Regions from separate parts of the Homo sapiens genome. Here region 1 is linked to region 2. The links come from fine-mapping of genetic effects on gene expression. A gene starts in region 2. The other region holds a variant in brackets. All regions are shown on one strand. Distances are from middle to middle. Region 1 overlaps GRB14 (growth factor receptor bound protein 14). Region 2 holds the start of GRB14 (growth factor receptor bound protein 14).

Evidence for each region. PIP is the estimated chance that this variant, and not a neighbour inherited with it, causes the effect.
Region 1: its variant is fine-mapped to the expression of GRB14 in spleen (GTEx, PIP above 0.99).

What each region holds. Positions count from the first base shown.
Region 1 is chr2:164,560,706-164,577,293 of GRCh38, forward strand. The region is part of intron 2 of GRB14 (growth factor receptor bound protein 14); the gene reads right to left. It also overlaps the pseudogene EIF3EP3. Among named protein-coding and RNA genes, the nearest start is that of GRB14, 52 kb to the right of the region's middle. The variant C/G (reference allele first, on the strand shown) is at 9,171.
Region 2 is chr2:164,613,227-164,629,814 of GRCh38, forward strand. It overlaps GRB14 (growth factor receptor bound protein 14), which reads right to left and starts at 8,256. Exons shown (of 14, transcript NM_004490.3): 1 at 7,893-8,256; 2 at 6,461-6,593. The coding sequence starts at 8,083.

The sequences.
Region 1 (16,588 bases), 53 kb before region 2:
TTGATAAAACTACCCAAGATAATTTCAGTTTTCAAACTGCAAAATAATAATTCCTGGTATTTTCCCAAACAAAGCCTGAATGTATACGTTCAAATATGCATGTCTGATTAGGAGGCTTTCTGACAATGCTGTTCTTGCCAAAACAAATTTTGAATTCCTCTTTGAGAATTATCATAATAGCAAGCATTATTAATATCCTACAGGGGTAGAAAATCCTTATCCTTTCTAGGGGTTTAGAATCTGAAATTACCAAAAGTCTTGCTTCTTTTTTTTCCTGCCAAAAAAGAGATTATTATTTTTAATATTTGGCTTAGAGTTCTGGGGCACAGCCATGAGAGCCAGCCCTACAGACCGCCCCAAGCAGTAGTCTGAGACCGTTCATTAGCCCAGCTATTTTTAATCAGCCTTCACTGCCAAATGTGGAACATGCAGTACAGTGTGCAAAATCATGATGCCCAGCAACTGTACTCATGGGGGTTCAGCCCAGGTGTTCACAGTGGACAGGGGATCCTGGAATCTGCTGTGATCAGATCTCAGACCCCAAACTTATTATTAGCCATGAGTTTTAGACTCCTCATACTGTAAAATGGGCAAAATGCTGGCAAACTGATAGCACTCAACTAATGTTAGCAATTATTATTATAAAATTTTGAAAGCAAAATAAGGCATTTCTGAATAAGTCCCAAGAGACCCCTACAGTCCTGTTGAGCTCTAAGAAACTCTGACCTGATGGTTGAATCACTATGTCTTTGAGGCAAAACTGAGTGCACAGCAAGGAAAAGTAACTAGGAGAGCAAAAGGCAGATTGGCAGAAAAGGTGAGATTCGTCCCATGAAAAGACTACAGGTGAGAGGACAAATTACTGCAGCTACACGGTGATGAGTAGCTATGCAGTACATGTGCCCAGGCAATTCTGAGGGACAGCCTCCTGTGCTAGGTGGAGCAGAGGCCCGGACCTCTGTCCCACCTCTGTCATTTATGAGCGAGGTGCTTTGGCCAAGACACTTAACTCTCTAAGCCAATTTTCCTCATCCAAAAATGGGTTTGGCCACCAAGCTTTTAGGGTTCTTATGAGGGTTAAAGTGAATGTGTAATCAATGCTGAACATGTTGTAGCTGCTATTTTTTATTGTTCTTTGTGAAGGGCAATACTCTGTGTGAAGGGTATACCAAATTGCCCACTGCAGCAAGTTGGAGCTAGATAAAGGTAATGAAAAGGCCTGAGCATTACAGCTTTTCATCCCAAAAGATGAGAAACTTGGCAAAAATTAAAGAAAAGCAACAGAGACAAATATTAGGAAGGAAATAGCAGGTCAGTATCTAAAGAGCTCAATCTTGCCTTTACAAAAATTGTTTTTATCCAACTAATTGGTAATTAGATACCAACTTTGTGCCTTCTATGTGCTGGGCATTGGGGTTCAATGATGATCAAAAGTAACAAGTTCTCACCATCATACAGCTAAGGTTCTATTAATAGTAACACCACTTGCCTACTGAAGCAACGTCTTAATACTAGACCTACTTTTATCCCTTTCAAATATACAACCCAGAAGTCCCCGTCTAATACTCCTTAGGACACTGAAAGGAGGAGTAATTAACCACCTATCTTGTATTTAAATCTACGTTCCCAAAGATTTTAAAAAATATATTCATCAGCGTATATAGTTGGATTCATTTTTTTTAATTCAAATTAGAGACCTTCTAAAGTTACAGAAAGGAAAGCAGTGGGAGCAAGCATTTGAAAGATATATTGTCTTTCTCTCCCTGGCTGAAATCTATGAAGAAAAACCACTTTTTGTTTGACTCACTTTCTACTATGAAATCTTTGGATAACCACTTTAGGAGAATAGGGCACGGAAAGTTTAAATTCTCAGTCACAGGGAAATTTAAACTGTTTATGAAACTAGTAAAACATGCCATTTCACAGGTGGGGAAAAAGGGAAATTCATATTTGTTAGACTTCTACTATGTGTGAAATGCTTCTAAATATTTATTCTGTTGAATCCTCACAACTGTTCTGTGAGGAAGCATCATCATCCCCAAGATAGAGAAACTGATTCTCAGAGGGTTTTGAAAGAATGCTCCCAAAGCCAGGGCACTGGAGAGTGATGAAGCTGAACTCAAACTCTGGGTTTCCTGGCTCTAAAGCATACATATAATCTGCTACAACACACTTCCTAAAAACTCACTTCTCAGGAAAAGAAACATTTCACTAAAATGCAAATACCATTCATCTGTGTGACACCCTTCCTGGTTGAGTATGCAACTAAGTTACTCTGTACAAAAGTAAAAAGGGCAGGAGAAATATCAAGGTTTAGCAAGAATGAGAACTCTGGATAAAAAGCAGTAACAATGCCCACTACCACTTCACTATCACCTTCCAAGCAAGTCCACCATCTAAACTAAGACCACCATCCATGGCCTTCCACGACCCTCTTCTGCACAGGAAATCTGCTCTCTCCCCACTTATTACCATACCTACAATCCCTATACAAGTAATAGAATATTATTTGCTCAAAAAGCATAGCTACATTTCATATCTGGCACCAGAATAACAAAAATCCCAGACAAATATTTACTAAATGTCTAATATGTCCAAGGCACTTGTAGAGGAGATGGCGAGTTACCCACCAATATCCACCCTTCCTCTCTTCCTTCCTGATGAATCCTGATTCTGGTGAGGAGGGCAGTGTGCTACACTCCAGGCCCGCATTTCCTGACTCCTCTTGTATCCAGAGTTGGCCAACAAGATGTAAGCAGAAACTCCTGGTTACTCCACAATGGCACGTTAACTGGTATAAAACTCACGAGCCTGTTCTTGGTCCTTCACATTCTCTGTGCAAAGACTGTAAACAGGATGACTGGAAATTTACATTTATCTTTCCATAAAAGGAAAAAGGACCCACACTAGAGAAGAAATAATAGAAAGCGAGAAGGAGTTCAGTTGCCTGAGGACATTGTGGGGCTGCAACATTAGCTTTGGACTTATCCTTGTAAAGTGAAAGAAAAATAAATCTCTTTTCCTCCTTAATCCACAGTCCTTTGTGTTTTTTGGTTACATGAAATTACATTCTGCCCATAAATGACAAAACATTTTAAAGATTTCTTCCTTTAAAATACTAAGATCTAGTTGTAAGACCAAAAATCAAAAGACAACTTTTGGAAACCAAATGGTGGTCCAAGATATACAAAAATAAACAAGATAGAGCAACTGAAAGTCATATTGTACACACCTATGGACGGCAATATGACTTAAATATTATTTAAAAGGTAATAATAAAATTGATGTTACAGGGCTGTAGTGGTTGAATTGACAAATGAGTAATAAAGGTGGGTCCACTGATACTAAATCAAGGCACCTTGAAGATAAAGGTGAAGCAAAAGAGTCTTAGAAGGCTTTAGGATGAGAACACAGCCTGAGCCGACACTTAGGCAATAGACAGCATTTGGGAAAGCAAATGAGCCTGGTGTTGTCTATAGGCTGCAGAGCACAATTCTGGGAGCAGAAGTGCAGATATACAGATTTTAAAAGCCGTTTGAAGCCCAAGGAGGCAAACGATATGCTGCAGTGAAGGCTTCAAGGGAAGCTGGGCAGGCTGAGGGCCAGGCAGGCCCTGGAGCATGGCAAATGCTAAGGAAGCCTGGACTGATTTTGTGCATGTTTAAAAGATTCTGGGAAAAATAGTGATGTGATGATGTGTTCTTTCCTCCACTAAATCACTTTTAGAAAATCATAGCAATTAGTCTAATTGTATGAGGAAAGAAATGATTATAACATGAACTATTCTCTTATATGAATGGGGAATTAGATCTTCTCATAAATGGCATTGCTCCGTATTACACTCATGAATTTACAATTTTCAAAAGGATTTGAATCTTAAAAAAATATATGTCATTAAAAGTATCCCTTTTTTTCTCTGAGATTTCAGAAGATACTTCAGGATCTTGTGTGCTTATGAACATCTCCTGTAATTGTAGCATGGATGAAGAATGCAAAAATGTTTGCAAACATAACTTAAAAACAATGTTGGCTGGGCACGGTGGCTCATGTCTGTAATCCCAGCACTTTGGGAGGCCGAGGTGGGCAGATCACAAGGTCAGGAGATGGAGACCATCATGGCTAACATGGTGAAACCCCTTCTCTAGTAAAAATACAAAAATTTAGCTAGGTGTGGTGGCACACGCCTGTAGTCCCAGCTACTGAGGAGGCTGAGGCAGGAGAATCGTTCGAACCCAGGAGGCAGAGGTTGCAGTGAGCCAAGATGGCGCCACTGCACTCCAGCCTGGGTGACAGAGCAAGACTCAATCTCAAAAAACAAACAAATAAACAAACAAACAAAAAATGTTAATCTGATAGAGACATGAAATATGCCTGACCCACCGAATCAGGATATGGATGTAAGGCCTTCTGACCTGGTAGTGTTTCCATAAAAGAATGTGAATTTTATATTATACTTAGTTTATACTTTACAATACTTGAGCCTTATGTTAACTCTCCGGGACCTTAAAATGTTTTCTTTATGTAATGTGCCAATCTGGAGTTCCAGGTATAAACTGTCTTTCTATCACACACTCACACACACACACACACACACACACTTGGCTGCTTACAATTGCTTTCTGAATAAAATGTTTTCTATGCTAGAGCATAAGGGAGTTGGTGGAGGTGCAGAGGAAGATGAAAGGATTTGCCTAAGCTAATTCCAGACTTGAATGGCAATTATACCCACCATAAGGCAATTTCATTTCCATATTAATTTCAGGAGGTAACACGTATCTAGGAGAAGCATACTGGAAGTCACAAGATCTAGATTCTATTTCTAGCTCTGCCACTGACCTTCTGGGTGACCTTGCATAAGTCACTCAACACCCAAGAGACTCAGTCTTCTCATTTGAAAAAGTAAAAAGCTACAACCTAGTGATGATCTGAGAAAAATGCGATGAGGTAAAAGATTCATTCACAATGTTTGCTGAGGATGTGATCGTTTCTGAAGCACATGAGGAACGTTCTTCACCAGAACCTTAATTCACTTAAATCAGAGAAATCAGATCCTAATAGAATTTGGAAGTGAACATTTTCTTTCCAATTTACTTGATAGAGAATCTACCAAAATACCTTTCTTCTCAAAGATCAAGGCGTACTTTCTCTGCTACAAAATAGATCTATACCACATGAAGGGCCATGTTTAAAATTCAAGTTCCTAAGCACTACCAGAGACACTTACAGCCACTTGGATCAGACACACTACCTGATAAGAAAATTACTCCCTATTGCTACGGAGCATTTTCAGAATGCTCTCAGCCTTTTAAATGATTAGGATTCCATTTGATAAATTATTTGTCAAGGGCCACTCATTCAGGATGAGTGAACTTTACACCAAACCTGTGGAAAAAGCACCTGCCTTCATGGGAAAATAAGTTGCTCCCCAAATTCTCTGAGAAATGCTTGTACTGATTTATAAGATCATTTAAAATTATGGCATATATGGAAAATAAATTAATTACAAGTATGAAATAACTTCTTATATTGGAAGAAAAAATTAATCATGGTGTGACCAGGGCAGATGGATGATTTTTAAATCAGAAAATACCCAACTCCTAAAATAAAAGACATTAAGATCTTCAGAACAATCAAATGGGTATTTTCAGAGTTAAAATATCAGGAGAAGCACATAATGGTGTGCTAAATTATATAAACACCAAAATATGTGCACTCACTGAAAAAAATAGCATAGACTTGAGTCTAGGGAATTTTGACTTTTATAAATATTATAACAGAAACTTGACAAGAAGCTTATTATTAAAATACCACGATAAATCACAATGAGGTGACCATTGGCAGCTCAGATGTAACATCAATAATAACCACCGCTTTCCAGAGTAATCTTGTTTTCCTACTTGGCAAACAGTGCTAGAAGTTATTTTTCTAGCCAAGTTTTCCCATAACCAATTTCCCCTAGGCTAATTGTTCAAACTCCTTGAAAATTACAGCATTCTTTCCTAATGTTTTATAATAATTCTAAAATAATAAAAATAATTTACATATTTTACTATAACCATGAAAATATAAAATATTTGGTTCACAGAATTATAGACACAAATAAGACTGAAGATATTATTTACTGAAAACTCCTCAGTTTGTTATACAGATGAGGAAGTAAAGACTCCAAGAGTTTACTGGATTTGCCCAAAGTCACAGGGCTAGTAAATGGAGAGTCCAGATAGTACATTTTCCATCATACCAACATGTCATCAAAAACAAACCATATGATAGAAGTTTCTTAGTCAATCTAAACTGCAATATTAACCGGATAAAGAAGAATTCAAACATGAGAACATAGACTTGATAAATGTTAATATGCCTTTTCACATCCTCAGTGAGTCCAGGAACCTATATTGTCATTATTAATGCACTGCTAAGTCCAATTCCAAATAAAAGTTAAAACCCAAAGCAAAATATTTTTAATTAAATTTGCTTACAATTAGCAAAAGGCCTCAAGAAAGATAAAGAACTCATGTTGGCAAAATTATCATATAGCTGTTCCAATGCCAAATAAAATATTCTCAGTAAATAAATGGTTGACTGGATAAGAAAATAAGCTGAAAATCTAAAAATTAAAAATAGTAAAGAGGCACTTCGTTTTTAAAAACTATAGCCACTTTAACTGTTAGATTTGCCATGTTTCAAATAAATTGCAACATGACCTTTGACTTAATGGAATGCACTGATAGTTAACAGTTAACTATTAAAAGTTGAGTTCAAAAATAAACACTACAGTTTCTAGTGTCACCAAAACCATTTGGTAAGCATATTGCCAAAACTGAGTTTTAGTGCCTTCCTTCTCAATGCGACAGATTTGATTCTTTAAGAAGTCCAGTGCAATGTTCTTATTTTGGAGAGTTACAAGAAAAGTTTACTATGACTACATGACATGGTTGCATATACCACCTTGTAAAATGCAATGCTGTAAGTGAGACATAAAAATAATCTTTACAAAAAACTAATAAATAAAATATTTTCATACACAGGATTGACTGCATTAATAATTAACAGAAAGCCCTTTCACAGGGGAATTTAATGGAAAGTTTTTCTTAAGCAAATACGCAGAAGCTCAATAGAAATGGGTAGAAACCTGAGAATAAACTGGTAACACATGTTTAAACAGTAAAATAATTGTATAGTCTATTCAACAATGAAGAGATTGATATATTATGAATTATGGTGAAACAAAGAAACTATTCCTTAGTAAACAAATATAAGACATAACAGCAGATTTCCTACTGAGCTAAAAACAAAGAGGCTTGAAGTTACAGTAGAAAGAAAAAAAAGGAAAAGTTTCAATACAGTCTCTAAATCACAGTGACCTGAAATCGAGATCAAACTTCTTTTAGGTGAAAGTTTTTAACTATAGCGATGTCCTAGCGCAGTATTATTTTTCCTAGTTCAATTCCAATAATATGTCCTTTAATTTTACCTACAACTTTAATGAATTATAGGCTCTTTCAAGGGTATGTAAGTAAAGCTTCCTATGTATTAATAAACACACAGTAACAGGGGAAAAAAAGCAGCAAGAAAAATTAAAGAAAAAAAGGATAAAGAAGTCACATACCCTTTTCTGTAGAATTATTGGCGTTATTGCAGGCAGAGTGACTCTTCTTGCACTCAAACTCATGCCTGCTCTTCTTAGAATGATCCTGTCTCGTAGGTCATGGACAAAATAAAAGAAATCTTTTATGGTTACTCCTTGGGAATCTCAGGGCTCAGTGCAATGAAACAACTAGGAAAGTAATAAATGTCACCCTGCTTATGTGATTCCAATCTACCCAAAGCCAATTAAGGATGGCTGTGGGACAGGACAAGGCAGCAACCAATCAAAGCCCGGAAAACCCCGCCTTTGTCCTTGGAAACACATTCTGATACTTTTGTTTATGATATTTAAAGAACCAGATTAACAGGCATCTAGTTCGCTCAACTTTTTTTCCAAAACAGTGCAATTCAATGCCATCTTTGTTGACTAGGCAGTTATGTCTTTACTAAAGCATTTCAACATATGGCAGATAAGAATCTGTTTACATTGGTCTATTTAAAGTATATAAATATATTAATGAACTAAATTTACTTATGCTATTCATAAAATTGATGAAGAGATCAACTGGAACATACACAAGGCACAAAAAATAATCCTGAGGTTAGAATTGGCACAAAGTGTTAATTTCTATGGTATAATAAAAGAGTTTTAATATATATTAATATCTTTCATTTCCTAAACATTAAAATTTTTGTATTATAAGCCTTCCAGCTATCCTTGATATCACACACTGTTAAATATTATTTTAACAATAAACCTAAATAATAGTATTAAATACAAAGAGGGGATTAAACTACAATATATCAATCTCAAATACTTATGTTTTTAAAAAGCACAAATGTGTGTGATGTAGCATATTTCATTCCATTAAAAGCATTTAAAAAATAACCACTGCCAAAACTTTCTCAAAATTTTAATGACCATTTTGCATTTCTTCTCATAAAAACTGAAAAGTTTATTCTAATGTTTCTAGGGGAGGGAGGCTGGAGGAGGTTTACAATGGAAAACATCTATAACTAACAAGAAAAATTTCAATGAAGTCTAAATAAAAAATGAAAGAAACACTCAAAAATGACAAAAAGGATTGCAACGTTAAAACTAATCTGAGCTTTTACAATTGTAAAATCTCTTCTGGACTGACATCTGGACAAGCTTCACTGAACTGCTCAATGCTCTTCAATCCTGACCCACTGCCTTCAGCGGGAGAAGAACTGGTAATTTCCAGATTACAATGTGGTTGTTGTAGTAACAAGGCAAAATGGAAGATACTCAGCAACACAGACACAAACTTTCCATTTCGTTATCTTGACTGCTACTAGGCAGTGTTCACTTTACTGCTTTATACATAAGTGAGTTTAATATGCATGGTGAGCTCATATTCCTCAAAAGAAAAAAGAGACACTACAACTCCAAGGATCCCTGCTTTGAATTTCAAAACCAAAAATCCCTCAGAATGGTAGTTGGGAGTGGCAGTAATGCGCTTAATATAAAAAGTCACAGATCTATTTTGGAGGCATTAATTAATTTGATCCTTATCCAGTTAGGTTTATCATGATCTTTTAAAAGAAAATTACCAAGAAAG[C/G]AAATACCAACTAATACAGCGATGGGGGGTTAGCATTTGTGAAGTAAAAGATTCTGTTCTAACCTTGAGCTACTTTTCAGCAAGCCAACAATAACAAAGACCATGGTAACAAATAATTTCAAGAATATCACCCATAATATTTGGCCTTATCTGTCTTCTTTTCTCAATTTAGCCTTCAAATATTACAAAGTGTTATCTCTGCATCCTGGCTAACACTGTGAAACCCTGCCTCTACTAAAAATACAAAAAATTAGCCAGGCATGGTGGCACGTGCCTGTAGTCCCAGCTACTCGGAAGGCTGAGAGGCAGGAGAATTGCTTGAACCCGGGAGGTGGAGGTTGCAGTGAGCCGAGATCGCGCCACTGCACTCCAGCCTGGGTGACAGAGCAAGACTCCATCTAAAAAAAAAAAAAAAAAAAAAAAAAGTGTTATCTCTGGTCTCAAAAATTTTACTGGGGTTCCATCATAATGAAAGTAATTCATTTCACTAAATTATCAAGCAAAGTACTATTTGCCAAACCCTGTATCAGGCAGTAGGAACACACTATTATTAAGACAGTTAAGGTCACTGTCTCATAGTGGAATAGAGATATTAATTTTTAAGTTAAAATATCCCATTCAGTGGTAAGTTGAGACTAACAGTGATTAAATGCTAAGTATCAAGGGTGCACCAAGGTAGAAGCAACTGCACAATAGGGGTAAGATCAGGGCAGGCTGCAAGAAGGAAACGGCACTTGCTTTGAAAAGTGAATAGAGGTGAGGAATATGCAGAACTTGAAAACTGATGTGAACACAGGGTCAAGGTCTCAAAGTTTACTCTGAGGTTTGAAGTCTAGATGATGGGGAAGTTAGAAATGCTGTTTTGTATCACACCATAAAGCCTGTTAAACACTATGTATAAAATGAACGCTTCAATTCAAAACAGTATCCAGGTCCTGTATAGATTACAGTGCAATATATACATGCCCTAAAAGGGCTTAAAAACACTTAATAGATGACTAGCTGTTTACGTGTGTGTGATAGGTCATCCCTTCAGAACACTGGAAAACTAAGTTTCTAAATTTTCAGGGAAAATTATGAAGAGCAAAATTTGGCATTTTGTGACTATGTTATCAAAAAGGCAAATGTCTTTGAAAAATGAAGCTTACCGATACTTTTCATAGTCAGCAGACTGAACAAGATAGCACCCTGCATACTTAAGACAGGTGGAATCTCATTTTTCTGTAATCCTTTGCAGGTGCTCATATTGACTGTGCTTTATCTTACTTCCTAGTTATTTTAGACACTGATTCCAAATTTAACTTCAGCCTATTCTTTTTTCTCATTAATTATTATAAATGACTTTGCCACTCACTAACCTTGTCACTTGACCCTTAATTTTCTTCAGTTGCAAAAATGAGGATAAAAAACTATGACCAAAACTTTCAGAACTGCTGTGAGGATCAAAGGAAATCAAGTTTGCAGAAGGCCTGGAAGAGCCCAAGGCAGACACTAACAAAACACTCCTTAAACTCCCGCTGCAGAGAATTGGTCTTTTATCTCCAAAAACGAAACTAACATTATAAGATGTTTTTAACACAACAGAGTCAACAATAAAATATTACAGAATAGCAGTGTACATTATTTAGAATTTTATTTGATAATTGGATAGAACAAGAGTAAATGTGTCACTTAAAATATTTTCATATCAATATTTCAATTAGGAAAAATAAAAATAACTATTATTGTGATTATCAATAATATTTATGTGAGCACCCATTATGTGCCAGGCACTGAGCTAGTTTTCACTTAATGCTCACAACTCTATAAGGTACTAGCTATTGAATAGATGAGGAAATTAAGGCCAGAAGAGCAGGCAGCTAAGAAATGGTCTTGGGTTTAAGCACATACTGCAAAAGAACTTGACCAAGTTCACAAAGTCCATAGCCACTAAGCCAGGGAGAAAACTGTAATCTGGCTCTCTCCAAGGCACCCCACTATTCCACTCTACAACATGTGTTTCCACATTTTATTATTAAATACATAGCTTGATACATTAGCATAAAATGTCACATTCATACAGCCCTTGTTCCTGACGTACCCAAGCATTTGTTTGATTAACCTGCTTTATAAATATGTATTGAAGACCTTACTATGTGTAAAGTGCTGTGCTGTTTATTATGGAGAATTCAAAGTTAATCAACTCATGACTCCTCTTTACCAAAACAGCTGATGCAGGGTGACACATAAACCATCAGTTATTATAGTATACAAAGTGGAATCTGGGCAGAAGAAAAATGCTATTAGGTTGGTGCAAAAGTAATTGGGGTTTTTATTATTGAAAGTAATGACAACAACCGCAATTACATTTGCACCAGTCTAATACAAAAGTACCATCCAACCTCTAGGTTTCAAGTCCCCCTTTCAAATCTCTTCTCCCACTCAACTTCAACGAAGCTCCCAAAAGCATGTTCTGTATTCCCACCTCTTTGTTCATAATGTTCCTCAGTTCATTAAGCCCCACAATGAAGGCCCAAGGCCAGTCACACCTCTTCTGAAAATTTCACTTCTGTGCATCTTTCAAGGATCTCTCCTTTTTATATACAAGTTATGTCAGAATTGAGAGGTGGGGAAGGAAGGAAAGATGACAAACACATATCAATTGCCCATTAAGTGTTAAGCACTTTGCATATGTTATTTCATTTTATTCTAACAGCCCTGCAAAGTAAGTATTATTTCATCTCATTTTACAGATTCAAACCCTACCTGTCCTTGCAATACTACCACTTTATTCTTTCTCATACACCAGTTTATTCAAACTTCAGCTACTGTCTCCTATGTGGATGCATTCTATATTATTTAGAATGGAGGTTCCTTGAGGGCAGTGGCATGTCTAACTTCTCTCTGACCATCTCAGTGTCTATCTGACTGTATAAAGCCCCCAGTGGCTTTATACAGAGAAAAAAAAGCAATAAGGAGATGTTTCTTGAATATCAAGTCCTACAAATACTTTTTTAATCCAGCCAATCTCCTGCCTCACACAAAATACAACTTGCACTGTCCTTTCATCTTTCCCTGTATCTCACACTATTGTGCTGTGCCCCCTTGGGATAACTCATTGCCTAGCTAGGTTCATCATCTCTCTCAAAGACATAGATCAAAATTTATTCCATCAAGCAGCCATCCCTCCATATAAATCATATCACTCCCTGTTTTGTAATTTTTTTTAGGACTTAAACTTTTCCATTTCTCCTTTCTTGCCTGAGACTTACTAATGCATTGTTTTGATAACTTATAAATCCTTCAACAGGCTCTACTTTTTCCACTCAACACAAATATAATCCTTAAGGTTAGGACTGAGTCTCTTAGTTTCTCTGCTTCTCCCAGAATACCTAGCAGAGTGTTCTTTGTACACAGTAGGCCTTATGTTCACATACAATCAATGTGGAAAGACTAGTCACTCCGGTTACATAGTGGACAAGCCTCCTTTCTCATCTTAACAATTGTTAGCCTTATGATTTTTTTCTGAACAAAAGCACAAAGTCTTCTTTACAGGAAAATGTAGATATTCTTTCACTATCTGACACAGCTCTATTAGTGACCACTAGTGTGAACACTAAATCTAAATGTTGTCTTGAGAACACCAGTCTCAGAAAATTCTTTTTTTTAAATGAATCAATTTTATTCCAATTCTTCAAAATTTATACGTAATATGTTGTTTCCAAAATGTAAGTCACCCTTTATATAATAGTTTTATTATTTCATCTTTCTTTAATAGTTTTTTTTTCATCTTTTCTTTATGGTTCTTCAGTAGAAGCCAGAATCTTGAGTTGCCCAGTTAGGAGCCTCTGACCTGCTATTCTAATTAAGTTTCTTCTCAATATTCATGCCCGTCTCTTCATATTTGAGACTTTCTGTCGCATCCACCAGTGTATCAGCATTAACATGTTGGCAGATAAATTGAACATGACTCCAGAAGAAGCTGAAAGGTGGATTGTAAATTTGATTAGAAATGCAAGACTGGATGCCAAGATTGATTCTAAATTAGGTCATGTGGTTATGGGTAACAATGCAGTCTCACCCTATCAGCAAGTGATTGAAAAGACCAAAAGCCTTTCCTTTAGAAGCCAGATGTTGGCCATGAATATTGAGAAGAAAATTCTTAACATAGATTGTTGCAGCAATAAATATGTAGCCTAGATCTTCAGAGGTAAATTCAGAAACTCTGGTTTTACCAGCTCATCATACTCTACTATGAATTTTCACTTCCTTAAGTAAATGACATAGAGTCAGTCTTTACAGTTGATGAGCTGATCTGATCCACCACTAGCCATTTTTTCCCCTCCACTCTAACAGTGAAGTAACCAAATTGAGAGGAAAAATTATCTTTTTTTTTTTTTTTTTTGAGACGGAGCCTCACACTGTCACCCAGGCTGGAATGCAATGGTGCGATCTCAGCTCACTGCAACCTCCGCCTCCCGGGTTCAAGTGATTCTCCTGCCTCAGCCTCCCGAGTAGCTGGGACTACAGGCATGCACTACCATGCCCAGCTAATTTTTGTATTTTTAGTAGAGACGGGGTTCACCACGTTGGCCAGGATGGTCTCAATCTTTCGACCTGATCCGCCCACCTTGGCCTCCCAAAGTGCTGGGATTACAGATGTGAGCCACCATGCCCAGCCAGAAAAATTATCTTAAATTTAAGAAACATTAGACAGAAAATGAAATCCGCACAGAAGAAAACCAAAACAGCAGAAAAGAATAAATAAAATATAAGACTTTTTTGTAGTCAAAACTTATTGATCGTTAGGCATGGTGGCTTATGCCTGTAATCCCAGCCATTTGGGAGGCTGAGACAGGAGGATGGCTTGAGGTCAAGGAATTTGAGATCAGCCTGGACAACAGAGCAAGACCCTGTCTCTCTACAAAAAATAAAAAAATACGGCCAGGTGTGGTGGTGAGCACCTGTAGTTCCATCTATTCAAGAGGCTAAGCCAGGAGGATTGCTTGAGCCCAGGAGTTTGAGGCTGCACTCCACTGAACTCCAGCCTGGGGAACAGAGGGAGACCCTATCTCAAAATGAAGAAAAAAAAAAAAAACTCAGTGAAAGTCACATAGTTCCCCAGAGAAACAGTCAACACTAAGACACTTCCTAGTAAAATTACTGAAACATTTTGAACAGCAAGGCAAAAGTTTTCTAGTAGCTTGTTTTAAGGCAGGAATCAGTCTGTTGTCAAATCTCTCCACAGCAACATTCAACAGTCAGATTCAGTGGACACCACTGCCCTCTAGATACACCACTGGATGCAGTAATGTGCATGAAATCCTTGAAAAAAGAAAATACAAATGAGATTTTTAAATTCAATCAAACTCATTAATTATAAAGGCAACGGACAATGTTCAAAATTTTGAACATATTACAAATATATAAAATCTTGTTTTCATAGGATCTTCTTGAGGAATTTACTAGAAGATAAATTTTAGTCATCCAAGTGATTGTAAAAACCTGAGTGAAATAACTGAAATAAACACTGAAATCAATCATGGTACTAAATTCCAATCATGTATGTGATTATGTTGCTATAATAAAACGTAAGTAATATGAGCCATAACAATTTAAGAATCGTTATGAAATTTCAATATGAAAATATGAATGATAAAATTTTTCAAAAAGATGAAAGCTGAGGGAGCAAGGACATGGTATGCAGTATATACTATATAAACTGACTGCTTTGCTAACTAAGATCAAAAAGATATTTTAAACTGATAAATCATAGGAGAATTCTAAGTAATTTATTTTATAATGCTAAGGTCAGCTGGTAGAAAAGGGAGGATGAAGAGGAAACATCTGCAGAAAGGAATAATAGATCATTTTTAAGGAAATAAGAGGATTAAGAACTTTCCTACAGTTACATTTATAATCATAACAGAAATATAAACTTTTCTAATAAAAAGAGCAAACACAAAGCTAAGAAAGCAGAACATCTTGTGAATTTTTTTCAAAAATCTATAAATTGGAAAACATAAAATAACAGTACTAATGCTAAACTTTTATGTTATCTCAGAGATGTTGCAGAGCTAAACTCACCTATTGAAAGAAAAACATTCAGTTGAATCATAAGACAGATTCTGCTCTATTCTATGGGAAAGAGAACCCTCTATAACCAAGTGTTTCATCAAGTTGCCTGTTCATAAGAATAGGCAAAAGCAAATAGGACAAATAAAAATAAAAAGGAAGAAAGGAGCAAGGAAGAAAACACTATAATGCTAAATGGTGTAATTCACAGTAAAAATAAAATGATTATAAACGTCTCGGTGTCATATAGTACACATTTGTAAAGCAAACTCTAAAATAGGTATAAAGATAATCAGATGGAAACATACTATTAATTGACTGTTATCCAACCTTCTCAAAGCCTGAATAACAAGAGAATTAAAAAGTAGGTATAAATATAAAATATATAAATAGGGTAACATAATAAAATAGATTTAATTGCCATATATTTAACTTTAAGGTGAAATCAGAGAATATCCCTTCTGTTTAAGAAATTGGTTTAAAAAAAAACTTGATCACATTGGACATCAAAGATAAAACCCCAGTAAATTCCAGAATACAGATAATAGTTACTAATCACAATACAGTAAAAGGAAAAATCACTAATCAATCTGGGGTTAAGAAGCTCCTAGCATCTGAAAATTTTAAGACTCTTCAAATAACTCTTCTGGCAAAGAAAACAATGAAAATTGAAAGTGTAAAATGTCTATGTAATAATAATAAATATAATAAACACTATATATCATATCTCATACTGCTAAAACAATTCTCAGACTCTAATTCATAAGCTTAAATACAGGTATATTAAACAAAAATAAATTTACTAACATCCCAAAATTTTAAAAAAATTATTAAATTAAACCTAAGGAAATCAGAAAGAATAAACTAATAAATATAAAAGTAGAAATTAAAACTTGAAAAAAAAAGGTAAAATGATAAAACTAATAAGTTCTGAATCTGGTCTTTGGGGAAAACAATAAAACAGATAAATACTGAAACAAATCTAGGGGGAAAAAGGGAGAAGGTACCAAAATATACAAAATAAGAAATAATACCAGAGAAATGATAAGAATCATAAGAGACTACTTCCCCCAATTTTATGCAAAAAAACATAATGAAATAGATTATTCTCTGGACAATATAATTTATACAAATTGACTCCATAAAATTCAAAGAAATTAATTGCTATAGAAGAAAGACAGTTGTCAAAGAGATACTGCTAAAAATTGTGGCCAAATCCTAGACGGTTTGATTTACAAAAAAATTCTATATAACCTTTAAGGAACAGATCATTTCAGTGCTAGCCAAACTATTTCAAAGTTAAGAAAATGTACAATTGTAGCCAAGAAAGGCAGACAAACAAGATCAATGAGGGGGATCTTCAC
Region 2 (16,588 bases):
ATCATACAAATATGATTAGAATTAGTTTTTGTGTCCTGTTTGAGATCTTTTTTTTCCCCTAGGACACTAGCTGCCCCTAGGACATAGTGCCTCCATATGCCATACCTACTAAACCTGTACCTCTTTCTCACATGTTACCACACCCTTGCAGACTGAACAGTGGTCCAGGGCCCACTGTCCCCTTGGCCACATCTGATTGAATAGGATCTGGACACACTGGACTAACATACCTCTCCAGATACAGTTCCCAGTCAGTTACCAAGTACTGAACCACTAATAGGTGGAAAACTTGGGAGCAGCCACTTGAGGCCGCTGGCACTGACATGAAATCAGGGCAAGCAACACTGCAAAGAAATCTCAAAAATGATGTGAATTTGCAAGGAGAGGCAGAGACTATGTGGTATGTTTGTGGGAGAACAAAAGAGAGAGAATAGAGAAAGTGGTTGACTTGATTTTTGCTGACTTTCTTGCTCCCAATTTCAGCCTCTCATGAGACCAGTGACCTTTTGGCCTTCAGGTACTACAACACAGCCTTTCAGGCTGGTTCATTTGAGGCTCTGTTTTGTCTGAACAATCAATACCTGGCTAAAATACCAACTAAAGGCCATTTGTAACATACTCACCTTTGTCAACAAAACACAACTGTCCTCAGTTTTGAAAGGTCCAATTGCCCCAGTTTGAAAATGGTAGAGATTAAGAGTAGCACTGATTTGTATACATATCAAAGAGAAAAAAATATAAAAAATCAAATTCCTATAACCTCCCCCAGAACATTCCTATTCAGTGGGTTTTGCAAGAGGTCCAAGTATCCATATTTTTAATAAGCATCCCTGCTGATTCTGAAGAAGGTGATTTAATGACCACACTTTGAGAAGCGCAGCTGTAAAGCCTGCTTCAACACTGCTACAAAGATCTGCACGCTTTCAAATTCTCCCAAAAAATTATATTCATCAAGTGACAGCACTCAAAAGTAGCAAATTGCCGTTGGAAAGATAGATTTGTTTGAAACCCTAATAGGAGAGAGTATTGTTTCTATCATTCTTTCTGCATATATGTTTTGTTTCCAATTAAATGGGATTTTGTAAAATAGCTCAGAGGGCCTAAATACAATTTATGATGTTGTTTCCATCTAAAAATGAATTTAAACTTCCAAAGAGCTAATTTTCAGACATTTGAAAGCTAAGCAGTTTGTAATTTGAGAATTTCATGAGCCATTCCAACTGAGAAAATTCAATTATGAATGGTTTTAGACGATATCAAGGAATTGCTGTTATTTATGTTAGGGAATAATGGCATTTGGGATATAAAAGAAAATTCATTTTTCAGAGATGAATACAAAACTACGTAGAGATGCAATGATGGGGTGTCCAGGATATACTTCAAAATACTTTAGCAAAGAAAATAAAATTTTTAAAAAAGAAATAGATGGAGTAAATGAGGCAAAATCTTGATAATTGCTGAGTCTGGAAAAACTACAATATGTACATGGGTTTCTCTTCTTTTACTTCTATGTATACTAGAAAAATAAGTATATGAAATTTCAGTTAATGTAGCAGCCACACAAGATTCCTATAGGACCACACATACAAGTTCAGCATGTCCAAAGTGGGGTAATTACTGGCATCACAAAGGAATGATATAAGAGGCCCTTTAATTTGGGGACAGAGATCTGCTTATCCTTTGAAAGTCCGTGACATGGTAGAGAAAAAAGAAATAAAAGGCCGAGCATATGGAAAACTAATTTTTTAATTATTTGAGATAAATTTTTATTTTTCTGAGACATACAAAAAAAGGCTTAATTTAATAAAGAATACACTAGAAACAGTGTGGTAAGGGACAGGACACATTGAGACATGATACTCTTTTTGATCTCCCTTTATTTAAACTGTGGAAGCATGGGCAAATCCCTTCCAGTTTTTGCATACTCTTTTTGTAATCTTAAAATGCAGGTGACATACTCATTTTCTTGTGTTCCCATGAAATAATATCCTGTGGACCGTAAACCACACACAAAAGCTGGTTATTAATAATACTAATAAATCTTATTTGATAATAAAATCAAATATTTGATAGATTTCTCAGACCAATTTTAGGGAGAAGATGGAGAAGAAAGCTAGAAGAAAAAACGTAGTTACATTTCGGGAAGAAATAAAAAGAGGAATTCCAGGTCCTTAGATGAATATTAACAAATGGCGTTTGTCTCCCCTGTTCTTCTTGTGTTATGAGGAGAGTTGTAACTAACAACACTGGTACACATGTATTATTATACTACTCTTATTTACAGTCCTTGCTTTCTTTAGAAATTGTACCTTCCTAAAAAGGGACTGTCAAAGCCTCAAGAAATCCAGATTTCAGGTGCTGGCTGTGCCACATAGCATTCCTTAAACTCAATTTACGTATCACTAAAGAAGAATATTGGAATAGAAGATCTGAAAAATCCCATCCAACTCAAACATTTCATGACACTGGTTTTCATAGCATTTTTTAAATCTCTAAAGCCTTCAGAGGCTTTATTCTTACTTAGTTGTACAACATAGTCCTGGGAAGCAATTAACCAGAGCTACTACACAGGCTATGTCCAAGCACAAAAATTACCTAGGGGTCAACAAAAAAGACAAGAACTGATTCTGCTGCAAGAGCTAAATAAAGATTTCTAACTCTTTGCTTTCCTTCAAACAATAGGTGTTTAGGGTTCATTACTAACAGATGATTTCCTTATAAATTTAAATCATAAATTAGAAAAAAGAGATTAAGTTCATAATGGAAGTCACTTTTAATATAAGTAACTTTTCTGGACCATGTATGTAAGGGAAGGTATACTTTAAATTTGCTTTATTAGTAAACACAAAGAAAGATGCCTAGGAAATCTGGCCATCATTATAAAAAGAGGGAAAGGGAATAAAGAATATGAATTCTCGCGGGGCACAGGGGCTCATGCCTGTAATCCCAGCACTTTGGGAGGCCAAGGCGGGTGGATCATGAGGTCAGGAGATGGAGATCATCCTGGCTAACACGGTAAAACCCTGTCTCTACTAAAAATACAAAAAAAATTAGCTGGGCGTGGTGGCAGGCACCTCTAGTCCCAGCTACTCGGGAGGCTGAGGCAGGAGAATGGCATGAACCCAGGAGGCAGAGCTTGCAGTAAGCCGAGATTGTGCCACTGCACTCCAGCCTGGGCGACAGAGCGAGACTCCGTCTCAAAAAAAAAAAAAAAAAAAAAAAAAGAATATGGATTCTCTCTCACTCTAGCTTTCATTTAAAAATAATGGTACTGAAAGCCTACAGTATTGTACACTTTGGGACATTTTATTTGCAAAAAGTGATAAAACATATCCCATTTGTGGCTTCAATGCACTTTACCACTCATGCATTATGTAGGCATCTCAAATAGTAAACAAAATTTATGACTTGTAAGATGGTTTTTGACTGTGATTTTGAAAGGCCAGATGAAATTTAACATTTTTAGTCTGGATTCTCTCAAATTTTCTGGTCATTGATTTGTAAATAACAAGTACAATTATTTTCTTCACTTTTTCTGTGGAGAGAAAAGAATCACTAAAATGACTGGAATGGTTAAACAGGACAAATGAGAGAGAATATAAAGTAAAGAGACATCTTCTCCTATAATATTTCAACCATAAATAATACTCAGTAGAACATATCGCATAGTCACTTACATCATCTCAACTGAAGGTTACAGATAAACTGGGCCAAAAACAGCATCTTGTAAAAGGGTAATATGTGTTGCAAAGCTACTGAGTTGGGGGACTCACTTACATAGAGTCATCTATTCTCAAAACCTTCCTCATTTCAAAGAACTGAGTGTGTATAAAGAAACTAAAGCAAAAGGATCAGTTCTAAATGCAAAGTCTAGGTGGGGGAAAAAGGAAGCATAAAATAAAGTAAAAAGCAGCCTCCCTCCTCCTCAACTTTGGGGTACCCTTGTCTTCATAGAGATCTCAACCATTGGGCCAAGGAAGAGATCAGCAAGAAGGGCCCTTCAAAGGTAGGGACAGCCCTCTGGGATGGATCTTTAAAAATCAGGCGGGGACTCTCTGCTCAGGGAACAGTACAGGTGTGTGTGTGGGTACAGTGTTCTTTGAGAAGGTCATTGTGGACACAGGATACAAGGCCAGAGCAGGAAACCTATTGGGGTCAATAACAATATCACCTTTTCCCCATTTCCAGTTTGCTATTTTTTTTTTGCCCATTTTCCAGTTTAAACCTGATCTGAGGAAATGTCATCAATCTCTAAGACGTCTTACTCTAGTCTGATGACTATCCACACTTAGGGCACATCCTGCCTTAACCCTGGCACTTTACCCATTCTTTCTCTTTTGTCCCCTATACTAACATAAGCATACCAACACCTCTTCTCACTTTCTATTCAAAACAAACCCTGCATCATCAACAAATCTCTCAGACACAGGCATTCTGCAAGTGTCCATTCATAGCATTAAAGTGAGTCAGCCCAGATATCCTTCCCTTTACTTTCCTTCTGGTTCAGGCTCCACCCGCTACCACAACCCCAAATCAAAGCCCCATCTTTTAAATATATCTTGCATGGTATTGTTGCTTAGCTAGGGTCCTTACTGCCTAGGATTTGTGAGAAACATAGCAGGCCCTTAGTAATTTGGGAACTACCTATTAAATTCTTCCAGATGACCATTATGTCATCATCAGACATTTCCTTTTCTTACTCTGGCTCAAGGACAAGCCAGAATCTTTTTTTTGGGGGGGGGGGGGTAGTGTCAGCGGGGGACAGATTCTCGCTCTGTCGTTCAGAGTGGAGTGCAGGGGCACAATCTCAGCTCACTGCAGCCTCCGCCTCCTGGGTTCAAGCGATTCTCCTGCCTCCGCCTCCCGAGTAGCTGGGACTACAGGTGCAGGCCACCACACCCAGCTAATTTTTGTATTTTTAGTGGAGACGGGGTTTTACCATGTTGGACAGGATGGTCTCAATCTTCAGACTTCGTGATCTGCCCGCCTCAGCCTCCCAAAGTGCTGGGATTACTGGGATTACAGGCGTGAGCCACCGCACCCGGCCTCTTTTTTTTTTTTCCACTACCATGGCACACAGTCAAATCTATTATCCTTACTTCCATTTTCTATCCAAACCAAAAAGTCAACTCTCAAAGAGCTTGGAAGTTTCACTAGGGCTGTTTTTTCCTTGGGATCTGACTTTAAACCTCATCCTGATAATAAAGGTCTCAAGAGAGTCTCCTCTTTGTCTCCCCAAACAAAGTTACAGTCCCACCCACTTAAGGGTTTATTCCCCCTTTCAAAGATGCCAATTCAGAACATAGTTCTGCTTCTAGAAAAATTTATTCCCATTTTCTCCAATCCTTACCCAAAAACCTGTGTACCAAGTGACTTCAAGCCCCTCCCCCCAAAAATATATACACAGGGCTTCCATCAAACATATTTCCTACTGTCTCTATCATTTCTGTATATGATCAATAATTCATCTGCTTCCTAAGGTATTTCCTCCATTCCTAAAAATATAAACACACATAGTTGAACCCATTAGAAGCAATAAAGGTGCAGAAATAAGAAAGAGAGCAATAGACGCGGAAAAATGGCCAACTGTCTTGTCCTCGCTGTTCATTATCCTTCTCCCATTTCAAGTACCTGGCTATTTCAATGTATTGTTTCCACCCTTGTAAGAATAAGGTGCATTTTGTCTAGTGAGGCTTCTCTTTGTTTTGCTGGGTCAAAACTGGGAGAAAGTATATGACAAGAGATGAATTATTCTATGATACACTATTTTTTTCCCCTCCAAATGTACAGCCATGATGTATTTTCTGTTAGTTGCTTGGTCCTTAAAATCTAATTTGCTTAAGTCAATCCCAAACTAGAAAAGGAGAAAATCATAAAGATATGGTCCTTAGTCTTCTAATTATCACTACGAGTCATCTATCTTCTGCAGCCAGAGCCTCCAAACTGAGGAATCCACTGAAATGAAGACATGTTGACCCTAAATTCTAAATACCTTTTGCCACAGCATCACTATATCACTTTCCTTAGGTAAATGAGGTTGGCTTGGGTTGAAAATGTGAAAAATTAAAGAAAGTATTAAAGGAATCAGTCAATCCCCTTCTCACCCCACTACTACTGCCCACCCCGTCCCAGCCTCTGCCCAATTCCTGGCTTAAAAATGATCATCTCTTCTACCTATCTGGTGAATGATTATTGTTCTCAACCACTGCACTTTATATATATTCTCTGTTTTAATCCATCCCAAGACCCTCGGAGGTAGGTTTTAACATTCCCATTATACGGCTTAGAAGAATAAGGCCCTAAATGGAAAATAATGCCAAAGGACCATGTCAGTCAACAGAGTTATTTAACAGAGCCCATGCTAATCCTTTGTTAATACTGTAAATTACGGAACACCTTAAAGACTGTATGGATTCAGAACTCCTAAGATTTTTGAAATTTAAAATTTAAAAATGCATACCTGTTTTTTCCTTGAATTTGCTTTGGGAAATAGGTCTGCTGACAACACAGATGTAAATGGAGAACAGCATAGCTCAGGAAAAGGGTTTGGAATAGATGGCATTTCCGGAACATCAAGATCTTTCTTTTTTCTCCTACAGTAAGAGAACATAGGATGTAATTTACATAAAACAGAATGTAAAATATAATTGCTGTCAGGAATAAAAAGTGTGCTAAGGCGAACATGTACCACTCTGTGACAAGGCTCATATTATATAAAGTATATAGAAAAGGTCTGTGATGTACTTTCTATGGGTCAAAATACAGTATGTTAATTAGATACAAACAAATCTCCTATAGTTCCTCTCTTTCTGTCTCTCTCTCTCTCTCTCTCTCTCCCCTCCCACCACCCCTCCCCCCCCCACCGCCTTCTCTCTCTCTTGCCTTTAAATCACCAGGCATAGAAACTCCATCACTTTTGATAATTTTCCTGAAACAGAAAAATAGACTATACAATTACTAATCCAAACATCACCTGAGAAGTCATACATTGTTATGCATCCATGATATTGACAGTCTCTAAGTTGCATTTAGTGCATTCATCCTTATGATATTTTACTAATCACTTTTGGAAGTTATGATTTATTAATTATAGCTGTGGTTCATCTCACTTCAAATTTCATTCACAATGTTGCCCACACACAGTCTGTTGATTTTTCAAGCGCTTATAGATATTAAACAGCAAGGCAGTGTTTTGAGGCGGTAAGTTAATAGAACTTGCTAGTATAAATGTACTATAGTCCACTGGAGAGTAATTTTAACTTCACTGAAGTTGGAGCGCTTTGAAAATCAGGAAAAAAAAAGTAACATTTAAATGTATGAATATAAAGGACTATAGATTTTTGTATTGCTGTAACCCTTTTTCTTTCCGAAAGTATGTGCAACTCTAAAGGCACTTAGTGCTGAATGCTATGGAGATTGGGAAACCCTTTAAAGCCTCTATTCTTTCCTGCCGAACAGCAAGACTGCTCGAATGTCAATCCATGCTTTGCTTCTACAGGGTCGCTGTAAGACTCTATGTGGGAGGTGAATACATTTATGCTACGATTTTTTTAAAATATATAAAATAAAATAGAGTTTACTTTGTGAAAATGCATGGCCACGAAGGAACAGAAGGTGATCAGCCTGCAGCCTGAGCTCCTAGTTTCACCACCGATGGGCAGAGGCGAGAGAGATGAGAGCTCTCAATGAAACGGTGATGCTATTTATAAGGCGCTGTGAGATCGCAATGTCCTGCTGATCCGGTAGGAGCCAGCTCAAAGGGGATTGTCTTCAGAGACTTTTACAAACTTGGCCCAGCTCTGGGCACATGGCTCACCCCCTAGGACCGCCTCCTCACCCCCTCGCCGGCTGCCCAGCCAGGACACTCCCCCGCGCCCTCCAGGGTTGCCTACCTGTCTGCAGCACAGCCGCGGGTCCCGTCCGGAAGGGGCAGGAGCGCTCGCGCGTGCAGCCAGGGGGCCGGCGCCAGGTCGTGGGCGTCGCCCCTCCCCTGGGCAGCGCCACACACCTGGGCGGCCAGCGGCGAATCCCGGGCAGCCGCCCTGCTCGCGGCGCTCTGCCCATCTTGCAGGGAAGTGGTCATTGTCGCCGGCCGGGGGGCTCGGGCGTCATGGGAGACTCGGCGCGTGGGGAGAAGGGGTTTGCGCGGCGGGAGGCGAGGTGCCGGCTAGGCAGCCCGAGCGCTCTGCAGGTGTGGTGGCCTCGCCGCCTGCGCTCGGGGCCCCGGCGGCTGAGACGCGCGGCCGAGCTATCTGCGAGGCGGCGGGGGAGGGGAGGGGGCGGAGGAGGAGGGTGGGGAGAGGGGAGGAGCGGCCGGTGGGTGGGGGCCGCGGGCGGCGAGGCAAGGCGCGGAGGGGGCGGGGAGGGCGCGAGAGCGGCTGGCCGGCCCCGCGCGTGGCCCGGGGCGCTCGGGGCCACTGGCATTGCTCCCGCGCCGTCCCATCCGGGACGCGAGGCCGGGACCGCTGCCTCCTCAGGTGGGCACCGGGGCGCGAGGCTGAGCCCAGGGTCTGGGCGGCCCCGGCGCCGCTGGAGGCGGGGACCCAGCCGAGCGGGCGCTCCCGCTGGGCTTGCCGGGAGGACCGCAGGCGGGATAGGGGTCCGCGCAGCCCTGACCCTCATACCCTTGCATTCTTTCTGCTCTGCCATCTGAGATCACCTAAGCTGTTGCTGGGCCGCCATGACAGTCCCCACCGGGCCAGGAGGCCAGGACACCAGAGGGTTTGCCCCAGTCCTTCCCCACGTGCCTCTTCTTCCATCCACTCCGCAGCCAAAGATTGGGGGGTTGATAGGGAGCAAGGAGTCCAATCATTATAGAAAACTACTGAGATTTTGAGAATTCTCAGTAAAGCATGAGTAAACCTGAAGGTGTCTGGAATTAGAAAGACTATTAGTTTTATGGTAATGAGAGAAGCTTACATTAATGAATTCCAGGTTGCCTTACGCTACCTATTCCATCCTCTCAACAGCTCCATAAATTAGATGTTTATCTCATTTTACACAAAAGGAAACTGGGGCTCAAAGCCATCGAGTACCTTGCACTAGTAACATAGCACTAGTAGCTGGTGGAGTCAATATTCCAACCCAGAAGCTTCCTTCTCAAAAACCCAGACTGTTCGAAATAGTAATGACATTATTATGCTCACCCTCTGAGATGCAGCAACCCTACTCTGAAATGCTGGGTGATCCTGTTTCTGCTCTTCCAGTAAGTGTGCCCGTCCCTATGCACCGTTGAGGATTTCCAAATGTTTCACAGGGTCTTTGTTCTTTGACCAAATTAGGTAATATCTGTCCCTGGCATCTGCTTTACCAGGTTTTCTTAATTTCAACAACCTCTGCCCAGGGAAAGGTAAACACTGCCTCCAGAAGAAAGCAGCAGCTCCCCTCCCCCATCTCAGTGCATTCTCTCCCACCGAGGCACCGACCACTGGAGAACCCAGGGGTCACTAATTCCCAACCTGTGAGGAAACCTGGGGCACTCCGTGAAGACAGAAAATCCTTGAGTCACAGTTCAGGGAATCCAAGTTCTTTATTTTCCTAATGTCAAAATTAAGGCCCAGAAGTGACCTGGGTCACAGCGGGTGTGATCTCTGGGATCTTTTATACCAGGGGTCCCCAACCCCTGGGCCCTGGACCACACCATACCAGTCCATGGACTGTGAGAAACCAGGCCGCACAGCAGGAGGTGAGCGGCTGGTGAACCAGCATTACCGCAAGAGCTCTGTCCCCTGTCAGATCAGCTGGGCATTAGATTCTCATAAGAGAGCGAACCCTATTGGTGAACTATGCCTGCCAGGGATCTAGGTTGCTCCTTATGAGAATCTAACAAATGCCTGATGATCTGAGGTGCAACAGTTTCATCCCGAAACCATCACCCCCACCCCATCCGTGGAAAAATTTTCTTCCATGAAGCCGGTCCCTGGTGCCAAAAAGGTTGGGGACACTGCAGTTTATACAATACTTTGGCTAAGCTAGGACAAAATGGTGATTCTCTTTCTCAGGAAGAAAATAATAATACTAATCATGGTGATAACTAACATTTATTGACACATGTGCCAGACAAAGCCCTCACTCACATCCAGTTCTCTGAATTACAGATTCTATGCCTGAGTTTAAGTGAATTTAATTTAAAAGCATACAGATATACTGAGGTTATTCCAGCAAAAAACAAATGAGGTATGTAGTTGCAGACAACTTGAACTAAAGAAACAAAGAAATAAGTAAACTTTAATCATTAACATCATTATCCCAATTTTATCCAGAACTCTTGCAGGCAGTCACTTCTTCTAAGAATAATATAGTTGAGCACATGAATTAGTGGCTGAAGTTTACACTGTCTCCACTCCCAACAACACTCTCTCTCTATCTCTCCTCCTCACCTCCTCTCTCTCTCTCACACACACACACACACACACACACACACACGGCGGGGGTGGGACAGAGAGAGAGAGAGAGAGAGAAAGAGAGCACACTTTTGATTTTTTTTTTTTCTTGGGGAAAGGGATAGGTGGAATCTGTATATGTCTTTGGAATCACTGGAAATGCTATTCCCCAATGGTGCATCCTGCTCCACATCCTAGCATAATTGCCATAATTTCTTAACCTCAAGAAAGAGTATTCCTTGGCTGGAAATATATCTCTATTTTGTCTCCCCTTTCCAAGCATTCTCCTATTTAGTGGAAATCCAAGGAGGGTCAATTTGCAGGCTTTATGCTCGTCCTCTGACCCCAATGGGTAGACATTGTAATCCTTGAGATTACCAGGGGCAAAAAGAAAAGGAACAGGTCTCTGAGAATGAGAAACTAAATAATTTTTTCTTGTAGATTGGCACTAAATGTTAAATTTACTCCCAGTAGTACCTTGAGAATCTGTACCAAGAGTTTTTAGAATTAGCTCATTCACATTTTTGAAGCAAGTCAATAAAGGAACTAGGTTTTTTTATCCAAGTGGTTTACAAGAAATGATTCTAAATAAAGAACTATGCAGTATAAAAGGTACAGAATCCTGTCAGACCTGCTACAGCCTAAGAAAATAGAGGTATTTTTCTATGAAAGAGAAGTTTTAAAAGAGAAATTTTCATCCTCATAATGGACAGATTTCTGAAACAATAAAGCAGATATGTGGGTATCAAAGAGCAATATCAGTCCCCTGGGTGGCTGTCCGCCTTTTGGACTTGGGCCTGTAAAATTGCAGAGAAGCAGCTTGTCCCCTGGCCCCTTTCCTCTGAGGGCCTTTTTTACTCTTTGTCCCTCCCTTTCCTGTCTTTCCTCAGGAATCCCAGTCTTCCTACCCCTCCTGGAAAATGTGTCCTCATTGCATTCCTCTCTCTCTCTCTGCTCATCAATTAAATTTCTTAACCCTTTGTATTGTGAAAGATAACACACATACAGAAAAGAAGTTCATAAACAACAATGTATAATGGCTTATCACAAGGAAAATACTGATGTCAGGCCATGAAACAGATTCTTGTCAGCCTTCCGGAAACTCCTCTTTTGCCCCTCCCTTCAATTAAAAGTTAGTTTCTTTCTTGCTTGCTTGCTTGCTTGCTTTTCTTTCTCTCTCTCTCTCTCCCCCTCTTTCTCTTCCTTTCTTCCTCTCTTCCTTCCTTCCTTTCTTTCTTTCTTTCCTTTTATTTTGCAGTGTCTCTATTGCCCAGGCTGGAGTGCAGTGGCAGGAACATAGCTCACTGCAGCCTTGACATCCCAGGCTCAAGCAATCCAGCCACCTCAGCCTTCCAAATAGCTGAGACCACAGGCACATGCCACCACATTCAGCTCTTTACTTTTAGTAGAGATGAGGTCTCATCATGTTGCCCAAGTTGGTCTCAAACTCCTGGGCTCAAGCAATCCTCCTTCTCCAGCCTTCCGAAGTACTGAGATTACAGGCTTCAGACACCACTCCCAGCCCAATTCAAATGTTCAGAATAATCAAATCCTTCTTTTTGTTTATAGTTTACACCTAACTATCCATCCCTAAACAAAATAGATTAGGTTTTCTAGATTTGCTCTTTATATAAATGGAATCATACTGTTTCGCCCTTTTATGTTTGACTTGGTTCCCTTAATATTACGTTTGTAATATTCTTCCATGCAGTTGCAAGTAGCTGTAGTCTTTTTGTTTTTCTATTGTATGTAATACCACAATTTACTGATCCATTTTACTGCAGAAAGATATCTAGGCTGTTTCCAGCTTTGACTATTATTAATACTGCCACAATGCACATTTTGCACACTTCCCTTGGTATGCATAGGCATGCACTTCTGGGAGGTATACATGTAGGAGTGGCATTGTGAGGTCATGGTATATATATATGTATGTTCGGTTTTAGTAGATATCGCAGTTTCCCAAATTGTTTGTATTGATTTTATCACTACCAGGAATGCATAAGCTTCCCCAGTTCTTCACATCCTTGACAATTAGTATATTAGAATTGTCACAGTAGATAGACATTCTGGTGAGTGCATAGCAGTATCTCATTGTGGAATTCAACTTTTCTTTATGACTAATGAGTTTGAGCAATTTTTTCTATGATGAGTTGCCATTTGGACATCCTCTTTTTGTTTTTCTTTTTTGTGAGTTGGAGTCTCATTCTGTTGCCCAGGCTGGAGAGCAGTGACACAATCATGGCTCAGCTCACTGCAACCTCAACCTCCTGGGCTCAAACAATCCTCCCTCCTTGAGTTCCCAAAGTGTTAGAATTATAGGCGTGAGCCCCAGAGCCTGGCCAGGACATTTCTCTTTTGATGGACCAATTCAAATATCTTGCCCATTCTTATGATGAGTTGTTTGTCTTTTTCTTACTCACTTATGAGTTATTTTTAAGTTCTGTTTTTATCTTATGGTGTGAAGGTATATAGGTTGTTTTTATTAATATGAATAAGTGATATCACAGCCTCACTCATAGAAAAGATTATCCTATCCTCACAACTTTGCAGTGGCTCCTTAGTCATAATTCAATTGCTGATCTACCCATAGGTCTGCTCTGGGCTCCCTCTTCTATTCCTCTAGTTTATTTACCAATATTTATGTCAATATCACATTGCCGTAATCATTATGATTTATAACAAGTCTTAATATTCAATGAAGCAGGGCTTTTCATTCTGTTCTTCAAGATGGATTCTTCAAGATAGTCAACAGCACAGATCTTAGTCTTAGTTCTGATCTCAAAAGGATGGGTATTAAATATGATATCATATCTTTATCACAGATATCCTTTATCAGATAAGAGAGGAGAAGGGTTCCCTCATTTTCTTTGTTTGCTAAGAATTTTTATTATGAATGAATACTATTAAATCAACTTTTCTGCCTCTAGAGTTGATCATATGGTTTTTCTCCATCATTCTATGTATTAAAAAGTAGTTATGATGACTTTTTTTTTTTTTTTAGATGGAGTCTTGCTCTGTCGCCCAGGCTGGAGTGCAGTGGTTCAATCTCTGCTCATAGAAGCTCCGCCTCCCAGGTTCATGCCATTCTCCTGCCTCAGCCTCCCAAGTAGCTGAGACTACAGGCGCCTGCCTGTAGTCCCAGCTAAATTTTTCTATTTTTAGTAGAGATGGGGTTTCACCGTGTTAGCCAGGATGGTCTTGGTCTCCTGACCTCGTGATCCGCCCGCCTCGGCCTCCCAAAGTGCTGGCATTACAGACGTGAGCCACTGAGCCCGGCCTAACTGTGTTGACTTTTTTAATGGTAAACTAAGTGTACATTCATAGGATAAACCCTACTCATATCTATACATATATTTAATAAGATTGCTAATATTTTGTTTAACATTTTTGCACCTATGTTCATGAGTGAGATTGGCCTGAATTTTTCTTTCTCATAATATTCTTCTGAGATGTTTGTATAGGGTAATGATGGCCTTGTTAGAAGTGGAGAGTTTTCCCTCTTTTTCTTTCTTTAAAGAGTTTATACAGATTATTTCTTATATAAACTGTGTTATTTCTTCCTTAATAGTTAATAAAATTTACTTGTTAAGCCATCAGACTTTTTCTTTGTGGTCGTTTTCTTTGTGGAAAAGTTTTTAATAAATGATTCAATATCTTTAATAGTTATAGGACTATTCCAAATTCTTATTTTTTCTTTTTTTTTTTTGATGGATAGCATAGCTTTATTCAGAGTGAAACCTTCCTTTCACAGAAGAATAATAAAGGTAAAATAGAGGTACTCTTGTAGATCTGAAAAACAGCTTTCATGGGCTAGTCCAGGGGGAATAACCACCGGGAGCGGGGGTTCTTACCTGAGTGTTAGGATGCCGGATGCCCTTGTCTGAGATTGCAGTGTGACTCTCATTTCCTCCCAGGGAGCTGCTAGAGATTAGGACATGGGTGACAGGAAAGCTAATTGCCTCACCTTACCAAGTGGCTCTCCATAAAGAAACACTTACGGCAGACAAGATCACTTTGGGGAACAATAGGTCTTTCCCACTTATCCACACCATCTCGAGGAAAGGCAAGAATCTGCTGGGGAACATGCATCTATCCTGCTACCCCTTCCATCCTCAAGAAGACTCTTACTGGCCCTCATGAAAGTCCTCCCTTGTTCTTGATGCAGAGAAGTGTCTGCAGACATTTATTCCTGTGGTCTTCTGCTTCCTGCTCACCCTCCGGAACCAGAGTCAGGGGCTATTCAGACTGGCACAGCCAATGTGTCCTACTGAGGAGCTCCTTTGCTGCTGTGTTTTGAACCCATGACCCTCACCCTGAGCACAGCCAGTTGGCCCAGGTAAGGGTGGTGCTGATGCAAATGCAGCATCAAAAGGCTGGCCAATCACCTCTCACCTACAGATATTAGGTTGGTGCAAAAGTAATTGTGGTTTTTTCAATTACCACAAGTACTTTTGCACCAGCCTAACACAATCAGTCCTAAGCCTGAGCAATTCTACTTCCTAAGTATTTCTCCCTCTTTTCTGTTCACATCTCTTCTTTTTTATTATTATTATTATACTTTAAGTTTTAGGGTACATGTGCACAACCTGCAGGTTAGTTACATATGTATACATGTGCCATGTTGGTGTGCTGCACCCATTAACTCGTCATTTAACATTAGGTGTATCTCCTAATGCTATCCCTCCCCCCCGTCACCCTACAACAGGCCCCAGTGTGTGATGTTCCCCTTCCTGTGTCCATGTGTTCTCATTGTTCAATTCCCACCTATGAGTGAGAACATGCGGTGTTTGGTTTTTTGTCCTTGTGATAGTTTGCTGAGAATGATGGTTTCCACCTTCATCCATGTCCCTACAAAGGACATGAACTCATCATTTTTTATGGCTGCATAGTATTCCATGGTGTATATGTGCCACATTTTCTTAATCCAGTCTATCATTGTTGGACATTTGGCTTTGTTCCAAGTCTTTGCTATTGTAAATAGTGCCTCAATAAACGTACATGTGCATGTGTATTTATAGCAGTGTGATTTATAATCCTTTGGGTATATACCCAGTGACAGGATTGCTGTGTCAAATGGTATTTCTAGTTCTAGATCCCTGAGGAATCGCCACACTGACTTCCACAATGGTTGAACTAGTTTACGGTCCCACCAACAGTGTGAAAGTGTTCCTATTTCTCCACATCCTCTCCAGCACCTGTTGTTTCCTGACTTTTTAATGATCGCCATTCTAACTGGTGTGAGATGGTATCTCATTGTGGTTTTGATTTGCATTTCTCTGATGGCCAATGTTGATGAGCATTTTTTCATATGTCTTTTGGCTGCATAAATGTCTTCTTTTGAGAAATGTCTGTTCATATCCTTTGCCCATTTTTTGATGGGGTTGTTTTTTTCTTGTAAATTTGATTTTTTCTACTGTCAATTTTGATAAGTAGTATTTTCTAGGAATGTATCTCTTTCATCTAAATTTTAAACTTTTTAATATCTGAAGGATTTACTGTGCTTCCCTATGCCCATTCCTGACATTGGATATTAGTGCTTTCTCTCCTTTTTTCTTGATTATATTCACCAGAGTTTATCAAGTTTTCAAGCTTTTCAAGAATAACCTTATTTTTCATTTGTGTTTTATTTCGTTAATTTCTATACTTTTTTTTTTTTCTGAGATGGAGTCTCACTCTGTCACCCAGGCTGGAGTGCAGTGGCACGATTTCAGCTCACTGCAACTTCTGCCTCTCTGGTTCAAGCAATTCTCCTGCTTCAGCCTCCCCAGTAGCTGGGATTACAGGCACCTACCATCATGCCCAGTTAATTTTTTGTACTTTTAATAGAGATGGGGTTTCACCATGTTGGCCAGGCTGGTCTTGAACTCCTGACCTCAGGCAATCCACCCACCTCAGCCTCCCAAAGTGCTGGGATTATAAGCGTGAGCCACTGCTCCCAACCTCTATCTTTTTCTTTCTTATTTCCCTCCTTCTTTTTCTGGTTTTATTTGTGATTATTTTTTGTTGATATTCTAAATATTTTACATGGATGCTTATAGCTTATTGATGTTTAGCTTTCCTTATTTTCTAATATTTACATTTAAAGACATTCATTTCCCTCCAGGTATGATTTTTAACTGTATCCTTGAAGTTTTAGCATATTGATTTGTATTAGTATTCAGTTCAAAGTATTTTATACTTTCCATTGCAATATTCTCCTAGCT